Regions from separate parts of the Homo sapiens genome. Here region 2 is linked to region 1. The links come from fine-mapping of genetic effects on gene expression. Tissue or cell type: minor salivary gland. Region 1 holds a variant in brackets; the other region holds the start of a gene. All regions are shown on one strand. Distances are from middle to middle.

The links. PIP is the estimated chance that this variant, and not a neighbour inherited with it, causes the effect.
Region 2: it holds the start of NRAP, and the variant in region 1 is fine-mapped to the expression of NRAP in minor salivary gland (GTEx, PIP above 0.99).

What each region holds. Positions count from the first base shown.
Region 1 is chr10:114,094,036-114,096,726 of GRCh38, forward strand. No RefSeq gene overlaps it. Among named protein-coding and RNA genes, the nearest start is that of ADRB1, 52 kb to the left of the region's middle. The variant AGG/A (reference allele first, on the strand shown) is at 1,335.
Region 2 is chr10:113,662,381-113,665,071 of GRCh38, forward strand. NRAP (nebulin related anchoring protein) reads right to left here and starts at 1,661. Exons shown (of 42, transcript NM_198060.4): 1 at 1,431-1,661; 2 at 972-1,066; 3 at 299-386. The coding sequence starts at 1,502.

The DNA.
Region 1 (2,691 bases):
AGGATGGGGCCAGGTGGAGATAATTGAATCACGGGGGCAGTTTCCCCCATACTGTTCTCGTGATAGTGAATAAGTCTCATGAGATGTGATGGTTTTATAAATGGGAGTTTCCCTGCACAAGCTCTCTTGCCTGCTGCCATGTAAGATGTGCCTTTGCTTCTCTTTGCCTTCTGCCATGATTGTGAGGCCTCCCCAGCCATGTGGAACTGTGACTCCATTAAACCTTTTTCCTTTATAAATTACCCAGTCTCGGGTATGTCTTTATCAGCAATGTGAGAACGGACTAATATACCAAGTTTGCCAGCCCCTGCATTCTAGGTTCGGTACTGGGAGACACTTGCCTTGGCTATCAGGGCCCTGCATGACAGATCAGTACCCTGTCCTTCACTGGCCTCCAGGCAGGCAGCCATTATCCAAGTTGTCACCTTCCTTGAGGTAGTGCCTGCCCGTGGGAGTGCCCTGCACTGTTCCAGAGTCTCCTCTCCTGCCCTCCCACCAGCCTTGGGGCTCTGCTCCCTTTGTCCTCCTCTTCACCCCACAGAGCCCTGTCGTTCCAGTGGGTTGTGTACTGTCTCACACAGGAACTCCGACTGTTGAAAACAAAGATATCTAATGCTCCTTGGAGATAAAAGAAGTTCAGACATCCAGGACACGGAACCTGGCTCCTCATTTGGGATAAGAAGGGAAAAAAGCTACCTCTTTTTCTTTGTCGTAGAGCTTACAACTTGAGAAAAGTAGGAACGGTTAATTCTCAAGCTGGTAATTCCACCACCTCAAATGTTCTGTATATGGCCTTGCCCCACCCGCACATGAGGAGTGACATCACATGGTGATGGGAAGCATCAGCACCGGGCCCTGTACTATCCCCCACCCCGAAGAGGGAGATGGGGAAGGATCTTGCCATACACAGTCAGCCAGGAGCCCTGGCCAGGTCCACCAATGGGAGTAGCCAATAGAAAATAGTGTGGGCCTGAAACTGTCTTGGGGGATTCCAAGGTAACCACTCTGCATAAAAATGAGGCTCACAGACCATGTCAGAAAAGAACCTTGCAATGAATATAAGACTCTTCTTTCCTGATATGAGTTCAGAATATACTGTCTCCCAAGGCTTGACATCTGTCCTTTGGAGACATGTGTGAGCTTGCTCTAAATGGTTAAGTAAAGAATCAGGAGTGCCTTCCAAGTCCACGGCAGGATTGGGAACAAGGAGACCCTGCCTGGGGAACTTGATCACCACAGGGTCTGGACCACCTCTCTCAACATCACTGACCATGAAGCCCCAGGGGCCACTGCGGATAAAATGACTCCAACCTGGGCAAAAGCCACTGGGGTAC[AGG/A]GGGTGTGTGTGTGTGTGTGTGTGTGTGTGTGTGTGTGTTTCTAGAGTGTGAGCCCCCTTCCTTTGGGTAAGGGTAACCAAAATGGGCAGGGAGCGGGATTCGAGTAGAGATCTTTAGAGGAGGAACATGAGAAGGGGGCACCAAATGAGAACCAGGGGAGCCCAGTTAGGACTTGTGGGCGCACTGGCAGGATGGTGGCCACTACAGCCAGTTTACAGGAGACCCAGCAGCTTGTGCAATGTCAGGGTGCTCTCAGGGCAAGCTGCAGCATCTCTGCCCAGAGCAAAGACAGGAGGGTATCCATCCACCGGACCACCGCTAGAACTGATTTGCGGAATGGTCGCGGGATACACAGCCTCCCAGCTTCACTCTGCAGCCTCCTGGGATTCTGAGTCACCTAATACACTTTAATAAATTCCTTTTTTGCCTCACAGGGCCAGACTTGGTCTCTGTTATTTGCCATCAAGAACCTCAATTGACACGTTAATTCCGTTTATCCCAAATTTATATAGATAAGTGTCACATGGAAACAATTCCCTTGTGCCTGGAAACAGTAAATTAAATGGATGGAATGGAACCAACCAGGCTGCTGTATAGCAAAAGAGAATAAAAATGTGTCTTTGTTTCCTCCCTCCATAATGCATATTAAATAACACATCTTACATTACATCTAAGCCTCAGAAACTTAAAAACCACTAGTAAGCACACGAGGGCTTGTGAGTTAATTATAACAGCCTTTGCTAAGTTCGGCTTGTGGTTTTCCTCTTATAATGAAATGTCAAGAATGGGGGAGGTAAGCTCAGTCGTGTGTTGCCGCTGATGTTTTTAACCAAAGGATCTGAGGCTGTTTGATATTTTTGGCTTCATAATTCCCATTTCCAGTCCTGATTTGGAAATAAAGATTGAAGTCCAAAGAAAAAGAAAGAGTGTTTCCAAGATACAGAATAGTCTGGCGTTCCGAGGTAAAACCTTAAATGCCTGAGGTCCATCTTCCCATTCTTTTGAGATTGCTTTTTTCATGTAGCAAGCTGTACTTTCCTGTTGCTCTTTTTGCCCCTTCCTGCCTTAGGACTGTAGGCTGGTGTCTACCTCAATGTATTGCAGTATTCATTTTGTAGCTGCTGACTTATTTCTTCTTGGGATTCCTCTTGAAGAATAAGACTTCAAACTCAGGACTTGGCACCAAAAAGAAATGAAGGTGTCACCATGTTGCTGTTGGATGCCCATGGGGGTACAGAGCTGTGTTTCTCATCTTCTTTCACCCCTATCACATGAAGTAGAGCCCAACAGAAAAGGGGTTCCCATAGCTGAGGTAGGCGGGGTGGGCATTATGCTTCTTATTCAGCTTTGAAAT
Region 2 (2,691 bases), 430 kb before region 1:
ACATTGTTGTTAATTGTGGTCATCCTACTCTGTCTGCTATAGGACATTACAACATGTTCCTTCTTTTATTTATTTAACTTTTTAAGAAATAAAGACAGGGTCTCACTATGTTGCCCAGGCTAGTCTCTAACTCCCAAGCTCAAACCATCTGCCCGCTTTGGCCTCCCAAAGTGTTGGAATTGTAGGTGTGAGCCACTGTGCCTGGCTAGAATATATTCCTTTTATCTATTTGCATGTTTCTACCCAGTAACCAATCATTCTCCATACCCTCCATCCCACTGAAAATTAAATAACTTACCCCACTGATGGCCTCTGGAAATGTCCTCACATTTAGATTTAATGGAGTGTGATAGACACTGGTGAAAGTGTTGTTCTTAGGGTTATGGCTACAACAAATAGGTATAAATCAAAATTAGAAATGTACTTTATCCAAATGATTGAGGGACTATTCTTAAAATTATTTTTAAATAATAACAGTTATTTTTAAAAAATCAATAAATGTAAAACTTAAAAATTAAGTTCGTGATTTTCCAGGCAATGCATCTTACAGAAAAAAAAGCAAATCAAATAAAATCGACATATATAACTGAAAGCCTAAATTTAACTGGAAATGATCACTTGAAAACTTTCTGAAGAAAGTAAAAAAGGATTCTGAAATTATTTAAAAGAAAATACTTCAAAGCTCTATATGCATATTTATGGCCATTACATTGTTCTGCACAGTATTTAATAATTTGACATGAGGTTATAGTGGATATATTTGATCTTTTACTTGGAAGAAATTTGAAGTTTTGTGTCCATTGCATAAAATCCCACCTTAGGTCTCTTTAATGACAGGATACAAGGGAACACTTTGGGAGAAGATATTTCTTGGATTTAACCCTGGGTTATATGATTTGAACGTTTAGTTGGCTCCTTGTTGAAAAACAAATAAAACTCAAGAGGTAGTGGTGGGGGCATCAAACACTTACGCGTGACAGTACGGCTTTTTCTGGTGACTCACAAAGTTATTAACAGACAGCATCATCTTGCAAACTTCACAGTGAAAACAGGCTTTATGCCATATCTAGAAATCATATAGAGAAGATTTAGCAATTACCCTTTTCCCCCCAGACTCAAGGTTCTTATATATTTTAGGGTAAAAAAATGAACTTCGAGGATAAAATGCTGATTTTAAAAAAATTAAAATCCACACACACAGCTATAACAACACTCACGGTTAAATAAATGGATAACTTTTTTTTTTTGAGACAACACAGAAGAAATAGAAATGTGTAGAACTAAATAAAGGTGAGAAAATATAACTTTTTCTTGTGGTTCAAAACAATTTAACTGAAAATTAAATTTCCATATTTACCTATGTCCATATGTGAGAAGGTCAATTTCCTGTGTTTGTTATTATTCACAAAAGCCAAGAAATGTCTACTGACCTGATCTATACAGCTGATCTTCTCGGCAGGATAAACCCCATACCCACACCTAGAACAGGGCTGCACATTCATCTCGAAGCCGGAAGAGAGAGGACAAAGATAGGCAACAGGCAAGAAATGCAAGGAGAACCCCCAGTCTAGTTCAAGTCTTCAAAATCCGACGACCATAAAATTCCTGTGGGCACCTCGATCTTTCAGAATCCAACTTCCACTTTCCTTTGCTGACCTTCTAGTTTGAAGTCAGCAGTTGGATGGTTTTTAAAGCTGCCACTTACTCAAGGGGCTATTTTGGCCACTCACTCAGCACGCATGTGTCTGGGAAATAAGGTGGAAGTATTTCTAGCTGACATGCTTCTCTAAATAGAAAAATGAACTCACAACAGCATCATGTTTATGTGGATAACCAAACCCTGGTGTATGATCAGGCAGCATGGAGTGGTTTAGCACTAGCTGTGATCATGACCCAAGAAAAGAACCTAAAGGAAGATGCCACACCGTCATCCAACAATCAAATTAGAAAAGCTTGCTCTATGCGTCCTATGACTAAAGCAGAAAGGCCAGCTCCCAAAAATATAGAAAATAAAATAGGATTGATTCACTCCTTTAAATGGATAAATATCACACTTGAATTTTAACTTTACCTACCCAAAGCGTTTACAACAGTTAAACTAAAAACTTAATAAGGTGTTAGTTTGTGTTTAGCTTCTACTGGAACGCAAAACTAAAAACTAATGAGAACTCTTGGTGTTTTGGCCTCTGTATTTTATTCTAGAATGTTCCAAGAAGGCCTTTGTGCTTGTTCCCTTGCCTCACAGGCCTTAAAAGAGGTGATATGAAGACAGAATCTCTCTTCCTGGCTTTGGGAAGCCTCTCATTGCCTTCAGTCTCTGCTGAAATGTCACCTTATCACCTTATAGAAATACCTGATACAAAATGGCACCTCACCTGTCCCCACTCCTATCTCATTATCTTCCATTACTCTTAGCCTGCTTGATGGTCTTCATAGTGGTAATCACAGCTGGACATATTACATGTTAATGTTTCTATTTTTAAAAATTGTGTCTCTCCCATCAAAATATGAGTTCTGTCTAAACAGGATCTTTGGTCCTTTTTGCCACTTCTATATCCCCCATGCCTAGAACAAGGTCTGCCAATAAAAGGTGCTTAATAAAGATTTATTGGATTAATGAAATAAATTTAATACTCACACCAAAATGCCTATAGAGGCCAGGTATGAAGTCTAGATAATGGTAGGAACTTT